3 linked regions of the Homo sapiens genome follow. The protein of the gene in region 2 purifies or fractionates together with the protein of the main gene of each other region. This does not show direct contact. Each region holds a gene or a part of one and is shown on either strand. Other genes may lie near its edges. The genes, in order: ZC3H14, WSB2 and NKTR.

What was found.
Region 1: the proteins of WSB2 (region 2) and ZC3H14 purify together in Homo sapiens (affinity purification with mass spectrometry; 2 studies listed by BioGRID and IntAct, with this or other methods). This does not show direct contact.
Region 3: the proteins of WSB2 (region 2) and NKTR purify together in Homo sapiens (affinity purification with mass spectrometry; 2 studies listed by BioGRID and IntAct, with this or other methods). This does not show direct contact.

Annotation. Positions count from the first base shown.
Region 1 is NC_000014.9:88,604,478-88,608,134, forward strand, and holds part of ZC3H14 (zinc finger CCCH domain-containing protein 14), read left to right. Parts: intron 1-2,765; coding exon 2,766-2,886; intron 2,887-3,657. UniProt on the Homo sapiens protein: RNA-binding protein involved in the biogenesis of circular RNAs (circRNAs), which are produced by back-splicing circularization of pre-mRNAs.
Region 2 is NC_000012.12:118,034,652-118,037,304, forward strand, and holds part of WSB2 (WD repeat and SOCS box-containing protein 2), read right to left. Parts: intron 1,860-2,653; coding exon 1,687-1,859; intron 674-1,686; coding exon 563-673; intron 443-562; coding exon 335-442; intron 1-334. UniProt on the Homo sapiens protein: May be a substrate-recognition component of a SCF-like ECS (Elongin-Cullin-SOCS-box protein) E3 ubiquitin ligase complex which mediates the ubiquitination and subsequent proteasomal degradation of target proteins.
Region 3 is NC_000003.12:42,638,616-42,642,272, reverse strand, and holds part of NKTR (NK-tumor recognition protein), read right to left. Parts: coding exon 2,523-3,657; intron 1-2,522. UniProt on the Homo sapiens protein: PPIase that catalyzes the cis-trans isomerization of proline imidic peptide bonds in oligopeptides and may therefore assist protein folding. Component of a putative tumor-recognition complex involved in the function of NK cells.

The sequences.
Region 1 (3,657 bases), on a different chromosome or scaffold from region 2:
CTTCTGGTTGGTTTTATGTTGGGTTGTTTCAAGGATGCTACCAACAACAACATCTGTTTTAACCTGCTGTCTTTTCACTCACTGTCATATGGCAGCACAGATTTTATAGCTTGCTTTCTTTGTTTTTTTTTTTTTTGAGATAGAGTCTCTCTGTCCCCCAGGCTGGAGTGCAATGGAGCCATCTCAGCTCACTGCAACTTCTGCCTTCCAGGTTGAAAGCCATTCTTCTGCCTCAGTCTCCCAAGTAGCTGGGATTACAGGCATGCACCATCACACCTGGCTAATTTTGTAGTTTAAGTAGAGACGGGGTTTTACCATGTTGGTCAGGCTAATCTCCAACTCCTGACCTCAAGTGATCCACCAACCTCGGCCTCCCAAAGTTCTGGGATTACAGGTGTGAGCCACCGTGCCTGGCCTATAGCTTTCAATAAAAGGTGAATTTGCCTCTTAAAATTTGAACAGAAAGTTTTAATAGTTTACAAAGTCGGTGTCAGCCAGTGAAGACTAGGGGCATGACCTTCGTATGACTTAATGTTTTTAAAAGAAAGATAAAGTTTCTTTGTAAGGTATTATTGTAATAATCACATTTCTTTGTAAAGTATTATATTGTTCCTGAGTATCTAGCTACTTTGCTTTCCAGCTAGGCTTCTCTTGGGTATTCTCTTAATCTTTTATTTGTACTGGGTTCTTGTGTATATATTATAGTCTGCTGTGTGTAATTTATTATAGGAAAAGGGTAAGACACATTTACTTTGCGGGGATGACACAAAAAACCTGTAAAAATTAGAGAAACTTCCAGTCATCTCACATTTTCTTTGGAACCGATTATTCTTGTATCTTAGAACTAAAATGACTTATACTGTTTTGTTTTTAGAAAGGGTATCCCTCCTGTTGCCCAGGCTGGAGTGCATTGGCACAGTCATGGCTCACTGCAGCCTCCACCTCCCAGGCTCAAGTGATTCTCCCACCTCAGCCTCCTGAGTAGTTGGTTACTACAGGTGCACACCACCATGCCTGGCTAATTTTTTGTATTTTTTGTAGAGATGGGGTTTCACCATGTTGCCCAGGCTGGTCTGAAACTCCTGAGCTCAAGTGATCTGCCCGCCTCGGCCTCCCAAAGTGCTGGGGTTACAGGCATGAGCCACCACATCCTATTTAAAGCTTAAATAGGACTTTTACTATTTTTAAAGTAGCATAGAAAACTGTTTGTATCAGGCATAGTCATAATTGCTCTTTGATGCTGCTCCTATCTGGGCTGCATGACTACATTTGTGTGCCTTGTTCTCCTGTAGTGAGGACAGAATGTGGGTCACTGGAACAGTAAGTACTCATAGAACTAGCTGCTGCTGCTATTACGACTGGTTGCCTGTTTTGCATTTTTTCCGTTTAATCATCAGACTCTAAGGAAGACATTATTTTCTCTTTGTATAGATGAGGAAACAGAATTCCAAAAAGTTAGCTAACATTTGCACAGAGTGTCTGGCTGAGCAACTAAGTGGCAGAGTCAGATTTTAACTGACCTCTGGCAAGAGGACTAGAGGAATACAGTTGAAGTGATACTTGCTTTCATGAACATGAATGTGAACCATAATACATAATACCCATGATGCTATTTTGTGGGGAGTTTAAGGTGTCTCAGTCCAGAAATTAGCAGCTGATTATTGCCTGTAGCTGTAATTTTACTTATTCAGTGTTATTTAATAAATTGCCAGCATTACAATTTCGATGAAGGCAGATTTTTGGCTTACTGAAACAGGATAAAAATCTGGCAACAGGGGTCCCACTTTGCCCTGTCATAGTAATCGAAGCTGTGATTGGATGTGGCACAGGGAGTGGAGTGGATGGGTGTGCACTTGCTTTCCAGGCTGCTGCTCCCCGTCTGTCCCTTATTGCATTTATCATCTTCAGCCCAGTCAGTCTTGCTGTTAGGGGAACTGCCCAGTCTCTGTAAGTGATGGCATTTGTGACCCCATTGTAGGTAAAAATGTTTTCCCCTTTTTAGACATTGCTGGCTGAGCGCGGTGGCTCATGCCTATAATCCCAGCACTTTGGGAGGCCGAGGTGGGTGGATCGCTTAAGTCCTGGAGTTCAAGACCAGCCTGGGCAACGTGGGGAAACCCTGTAGCCAGGCGTGGTGGCACGTGCTACTTGGTAGGGGCTGAGGTGGGAGTATCACTTGAGCCTGGGAGGCAGAGGTTGCAGTGAGCCGAGATTACACCACTGGCACACCACTGTACTCCATCCTGGGTGACAGAGCAGGACCCTGTCGTAAAAAAAAAAAAAAAAAAAAAAAGTAAAAGACATTGCTGAGTTTCGCACCTGGACTTACAGCTCAGCAGGTGGGAATCCTTTTGTATTTGGGCCACTCATCATCTTGCTGGCGTGTGAGGATTCACATCTCCTTATCACCTTACCTGTTTTCAGTTTTTATTTAATTTTATTAGTTCCCCACTTGACGTCCTTCTCTATTTTTAATTCAGCTATGAATTAGTATTGAGAATTAGAATTTTTGGTGAAAAATTTGGCCGTAGTTGCAGAGTCACTGTCCTCTTTCCTTTTCACAGTGAGAACTGTTGTCTTCTTCCTGGCAACCTTTTATAGGATTCTATGGCCAGTGTTAATCCCATAATTTGAGCTCACTTATTTTATATGACTGTACATTTAACAGAAGATTCTAAGACAGGTTTGAGGGAAATATGTTAAAGGTGCTGTGTACTGAATTGATCATAATGAATGAAATACTTTTATTTCCTTTCCCTTTGTAGCTGAGATGAGTGAACTGAGTGTGGCACAGAAACCAGAAAAACTTTTGGAGCGCTGCAAGTACTGGCCTGCTTGTAAAAATGGGGATGAGTGTGCCTACCATCACCCCATCTCACCCTGCAAGTGAGTACCATCCCCCCATCTCACCCTGCAAGTGAGTACCATCCCCCCATCTCACCCTGCAAGTACCATCCCCCATCTCACCTGGCAAGTACCATCCCATCTCACCCAGCAAGTACCATCCCCCACATCTCAACCCTCAAGTGAGTACCATCCCATCTCACCCTGCAAGTACCATCCCATTTCACCCTGCAAGTACCATCCCCCATCTCACCCTGCAAGTACCATCTCCCCATCTCACCCTGTAACTACCATCCCATCTCACCCTGCAAGTGAGTACCATCCCTGCATTTCACCCTGCAAGTACCATCTCATCTCACCCTGCAAGTACCACCCCCTCATCTCACCCTGCAAGTATCATCCCCCATCTAGCCCTGTAAGTGCGAGTACCATCCCCCATCTTACCCTGCAAGTACCATCACCCACTTCACCCTGCAAGTACCATCCCCCACCTCAGCCTGCAAGTACCATCCCCCACCTCAGCCTGCAAGTACCATCCCCTATCTCACCCTGCAAGTACCATCCCCATCTCACCCTGCAAGTATCATCCCCCACCTCACCCTGCAAGTACCATCCCCCATCTCACCCTGCAATTGAGTACCATCCCCCATCTCACCCTGCAAGTACCATCCCCCATCTCACCCTGCAAGTGAGTACCATCCCCCATCTCACCTTGCAAGTACCATCCCCCATCTCACCCTGCAAGTACCATCCCCCATCTCACCCTGCAAGTATCATCTCACCCTGCAAGTGAGTACCATCCCCCCATCTCAT
Region 2 (2,653 bases):
CCACCTACTGAATTATAGATGTTACCTGTAAAGTGGTCTTTTAGCCCTAAATGGTTTCCCATATATTATGCATCATCTCAATTTTATTCTCCCTTGTGAACTTGGCCCATTAGGTGGCATGACTTACAGATCTTTAATTACATTTAGGTTAAATATTCAGAGAAAATGGGACACCGTTATTAGCAAAATCGATCATTTGAGTTTTATATAATCTTGAATTGCCTTAAAGCTTTCCTCATAGGCAAGAAAATTCTAGATGGTTTCTTTCCTTAAAAAGCTCCATGGTATACTCAGCAGAAAGCACCACCCATCTGTTCAGCTAACAAATACATACCCTGTGGCAATGACTCCACCATGTGGAAAAAATGTGCAGCAAAGCCCATTGGTCATAGGAGCAAATGCAATGGGAGTTTTCAGTTCCAGGGCCCAGATCCTGAGGAGTCTGGATGGGGAGAGAGAACATCTGGATATTAGCTGACCCAGGGCCAGACCAAGAGGGCCTTGCTGCCATTACTTGCAAGCACTTGTTCTGAGGCCATGTAAAGAGAGTTCTCTTCGTTACCTGTCATCTGCCACCGTGGCAAGGTACAAGCCTTCTGGAGAGAAGCACACAGATCTCAGTGAGCTAATGTGGACGTCACTGTCATCCATGGCGGGGTCAACCTGGGTGTGGCTGGGAAGGAAAGAAACAGGATGGCAGGCCTGGAGTGATGGCTGCTCTCCACCCTCCATCATCACCCTAGGCAGGAAGCCAAACTGCCCTGGCTACAAAAGGGCTCAAGATGCATTGTGTGCCCCTCGTGGAAAAGCTTGGGATTTGCACACTGGGAAAAAAAAGGGTATCTCAGAAGGCTCCAGGTGTCCTGTGGATGAAGGGTTACTAACACTTCCTTGTGCTAATTTGCTTATGCAAAGTAGGTCAGCCCTCACTTTAATGCCACAGTAGAAACTGCAAGTCTTTTTTAGGCTAAGATACATGATAATTATAGGACTGCCTATTATTTGCTTCATAAAACAACAGACACAAAAGGAAAAAGGAGACCAAGTTTGTGAGAACATGAAACTCATTTTGGAAAGCACAGTTTCGATAAGAGGCTCTTTCTGAACTTGTTACTACAGTTATTAGTAAATGGAAATAAAGAGTCATATTGAGGCTTCATAATGCTGATTCCGAAGAAGTACACACAGCCACCTGAATCAGGAGACTGGAAGACACTCAAAGCTACTTGAGAGGGCTTAATTGACAAGGCATCACTAAGAAGCAATGAACCAGGCCAGGCGCAGTGGCTCATGCCTATAATAGCAGTTTGGGAGACTGAGGCGGTGGATCACCTGAGGTCAGGAGTTTGAGACTAGCCTGGCCAACATGGTGAAACCCCATCTCTAATAAAAATACAAAAATTAGCCAGGCCTGGTGGCGCACGCTTGTAGTCCTAGCTACTCGGGAGGCTCAGGCAGCAGAATCGCTTGAACCCGGGAGGTGGAGGTTGCAGTGATCCAAGATTGCGCCACTGCACTCCAGCCTGGGTGACAGAGCGAGACTCCGTCTCAAAAGAGACCCACTGTGCCTTTTTATCCAGCTTGTCCCCTCCCATGTCCCAGATTCTAAAAGAGACATGTCTAATCCCAGGCAGGTTCCTCATCAGTCCCCCCACAAAAAAGTCATAGCAGGGATTCAGTCCTTACTGGAGTGACCTCAGCCTTTCGCCGGTGTAGGGGTCCCACATAATCACATTGGTATCGTAAGAAGCCGTGACAAGCAGGGCAGAGTCGGGGGAGAAGTCACAAGAGACAACACTGCTTTGATGGCCCTCTAGCTTCCGAATTAACGTGTAGGACCTCATGCTCCATAGAAAGACCTGTGGAAAGTAAGAAGTGCCTGGTTAGGGCAGAAGCAAAGTGCTTAGGACTCAAACGGAGGGAGGGAAAGGTACCACCACCAAATCTGCAGGCCCTGCAGCCAGGGCTGATTCTCTATCCCTTTTCTACAGCTCTTCCAGAACGTGTGGTGTAGGTTTAAATAAGGCAACTGGTCTGGATTCTTGAGGATTTAAAACAATGGGCATGCTCAAGGAGCTCACTATAAGAGAGAATAAACCAGATCAGCCTTAGGAAGACCCCTGCTGAAACGCATGTGCAGAGACTTCTGAGTCTGCTTCTGAGTCCTGTTTGCCAATAGGGTAGTCGTATGTGCTGATGAAGACCTGAGCCAAGTGCTATCTTATTCCACTTAAAAATAAATGTCAGCGGCCAGGCACGATGGCTCATGCCTGTAATCTCAGCACTTTGGGTGGCTGAGGTGGGTGGATCACATGAGGCCAGGAGTTCAAGACCAGCTTGGTCAACATGGCAAAACCCCATCTCTACTGAAAATACAAAAATTAGCCAGGCATGGTGGTGCACGCCTGTAAGCCCAGCTATTTGGGAGGTTGAGGCAGAAGAATCACTTGAGCCTGGTAGGTGGAGGTTGCAGTGACCTGAGATCACGTCACTGCACTCCAGCTTGGGCGAAAGAGTAAGACTGTCTCAAATTTTTTTTAAAGGGTCAGAAGTGAAATCTGCGGCCACCCCACAAAGTAGTGGCAGGCTGCCAAGGCATTTTACACCCCCCACCTTGTGTATGGAACCATGGAAATCTGTCCCAAGACTGGGC
Region 3 (3,657 bases), on a different chromosome or scaffold from region 2:
TTCATAGAAGCCTGATTTATAACACCAATAACACTGAGAAGAAAATAAACCAAATCTCCACTAATGGTAGAATGGGTTAAAAAAACATTAAGGTAGAGATATATAACGAAATATTCTGAAGAAAATGAACTACAGCTACATGTTTCAGCAAGGATATATCTCTAGAACACAATGTTGAATGAAGAAGGCAAATGTAGAACATCTATATATATAAAAGTATTTTACTTAATAAAAAGTGCAAACATAACATTGTATAAAGATAGAAACACTTGGGGTAAAGCTATAAAGAAAGACAACAAAATTATAACCAAAGTTTAGAATAATGGTTAACTTTGGGACATAGGCATGCACCTAGGGGTGGCACTGGTACATCAAAGCTCTATTTTTTTTTTTTTTTTGAGGAGTCTTGCTCTGTCGCCCAGGCTGGAGTGCAGTGGCGCGATCTTGGCTCACTGCAACCTCTGCTTCCCAGGTTCAAGCAATTCTCCTGCCTCAGCCTCCTGAGTAGCTGGGATTACAGACACGCACTACCACGCCCGGCTAATTTTTGTATTTTTAGTAGAGACAGGGTTTCACCATGTTGGTTAGGCTGGTGTTGAACTCCTGACCTTGTGATCTGCCCACCTCGGCCTCCCAAAGTACTGGGATTACAGGTGTGAGCCACCACACCCGGCCCAAAGATCTATTTTTTAAGCTAGATGGCAGGTACATGAGTATGTATTATATAGCTTTTTATACTTTTATCATTTTTTATGTCTAATACTTAATAAAACAAGCAAAAATGTAAGCAGTACAATTCTGCCCCTCTGCATTCACTTGGCTCCCCACCCTTCTCCCCTACTTTAGGCCTGTCATTCAGGAACAGAACAATACCTCTGTGTACAGGTGACATTATGTAATATCACCATAGGTTTTATTCAGTATGCACTATGTTTTGGAAGACATGACCTGCTTCCAGTATATCTGCAAGAAAATGAATACGTTATGTTCTAATAAGATTGTAGTCATTTATTCAACCAAAAATAATAAAGCCAGACCCTGTGAGGTGACTGAACGATGAGTAACACACAGTTCCTGACTTCAAGGAGTTCACAGCCTAATGGGGGTGTCAGGCCCAGGCAGGTAACCAAAACAGGGAGGCAGGGCAGCACCCAGGCTTATCCATCTCAGTCTACTACCTGTTAGCTGCATAGCCTAGAACAAGTCCCTTAGCCTTTCTACGCCTTGCTGTCTTCATTACAAACTGAAATACCACCCACTCCAAGGCAGAGGTGGGAAGGTAAATGAGAAGAGTGGCCAGCATCACGAATAGCTCAGAGCTGTCTCTGTGTAAATGGTTAAGGCAGATCATAAGCAGACAGGAAGCTGGAGTCGCTCAATAGGCAACTGCATCTATCAACAGGAACTCAGAGAGAAAAGGCCATGAGGAAGAAGAGAAGCCTAGAACACAGGGACGAAATGGCCTGAGTGGGAGAAAGGAGAGCTAGCAGAGGGCTCCAGAAGTGAGGCTGAAAATACGCCATGGTACTGGCCATCAGAAGTACCTGAAAGTCTTAGTCAGTAAACTAAGAGATGCGGGGAGGGGAAGGCACAGAAGGCAGCAAGCACACAGCCGAGGAGAAAATGGGAGACCGAGTATAGATGGCACGTGGCGGTTCCTTTTTTAGGAAGTCTGGGTAGGCAAGGGAAGAAAGACTGATGAATAACTAGAAAGGAAACAAACGTCAAAGATTCTTATGGTATTTTCAGTTCAAATGATGAATATCAAGCACAATAAAATAAGGGATATGAATAATTAAGAAACAGGTAAAACCATAAAATATTTACAAGAAAAAGAATGCAACACAACTGCTTACTAACTTCCTATTACCATCACAAATATTTTTAGTTTTTAATTCTCATCTCTGTTATCCATTCTATGCTGACAAGTTATGATGCAATTTATAACAATAACAAAAAACCTTTTCATGAAGGTGCAGAGTGACAAAGATGAGAAAAAGGTGTTTTAAATTCTTTTATTGCTTTTCAAACAACAACAAAAATCTAAAGATGATCATTTTTATCCCTATGCCCCATCTAAACTAAGATGCATGTCTTGGGCAGGTAACTTTGTCTCTCTGGCCCTCAACTTCCACATGTGTAAAATGGAAGGTTAGATTAATGATCTGCAAATTCTATATATTCTGTCAATTCAGGATTCCCTTCTAAGGCATCACTTGACTGGCAAGAAGCAGCCTCACACCTTTAAAGATGGAGAATTTACCACCTATCATGGGAACTCATTTCTAGTGACAGAGAGCTTTAAACTGATAGTAATAGTTTTGTAAACCCAGCCCAAATTTCTCCTCCTGAAATTCCCTCTCCCTAAGTTTTCAATCTACTCTCTGAATCACACAAAACAAGACTTCTTATTCCTTTCAGATATTTGGAAATAGTGATTCTGTCCCTAATTCTGATATTCTTCCAAGCTAAACAATAACAGACTCTCCTTGGGAGAAGAAAGGAAAGAGAATATTGCTCACCGATAAGATGATGTGGAACTTCTCGATCGACTTCTTGAGTGACTATAGGAGACAGACCTTGTTCTGTGTCTTGATTTGGTTTCAGATTTACTTCGAGATCTACTTGGACTCCTGGACTGGCTATCATCATCCCGACTAGGCGTCTGCTCATCACTTGAACTCTCCTGATTTCTTGGTCTACGGTTTAAGCGTGCTGTCTTTCTTACTTCATCAAAGAGAGACCCAGGCCGAACTTTATTTTTGCTTTTAATTTCTATTCTCAAGCCTTGTGGTTTCATTTCAGGCACAGTGGTCAACACCTTAACTTCCACAGCACTGGATGTGGCAGCATTAGGTGCTGCCAGGTTCCCCACACCTTGCAGGGGCTTCCATTTCTTATCAATGAGGTTGATCTGGCTCTTCTCAGCCACCTCCTTCTTCCCGGTACTTTCTCCAGCACTAGCCAAGCTAGCAGAGCTGCTGTCCTGTTTCCCCACTTCACCCAACACTTTACTTTCGGACATGCTGCTTTCCTGTTTTACTACCTCTGCTTGAGGATGTTCCGTTGCCATATCCTGCTTCAAAACAATGTTTATATCTGGGGTATCAAGCCGTGCATTTCCTAGAGGGGAAGTCTCCTCTACTTTTGCTGGGGAACTCCTATCAGGAGTGCAGATCTCCATGTTGTCATCTGTTTGAAGCACATCTTCCACTCCATTGGGAACACTTTCTTCAACGTGCTGAATGTTTTGTAAACAGGCCACATTTTCCTCAGTATTTAAAGCTGTGGGAGAAATACTGAGTTTACTATCATCTTTAGTAAACTGATCAAGATCTGATGAAACAGTCACTGTATCATGTTTACCTGAAAGGTCCTCTTCACTGGATTTCTCAGTTTTTAGAATATTATCTTTTATGGTTTCATTGTTTTCAGAAACTTTTTTCTCTTTTGATTCCTGAGTAACTTGCTTGTCATCAATCTCCTCCTCCTCCTCTTCACCAAATTCTAGTGGAGGCTGCCAGTGAAATGCTTGCTTTCGTTTTGGAGCCTTATGCTTTTTGTCTTTTTTCCCTTTCAATTTCTCTTTCACTTTTTTGGTGTGTTCTCTTTTAAGATTTTCCTTTGACCCATGTTTGTGCTTTTGTGGCTTTCCCC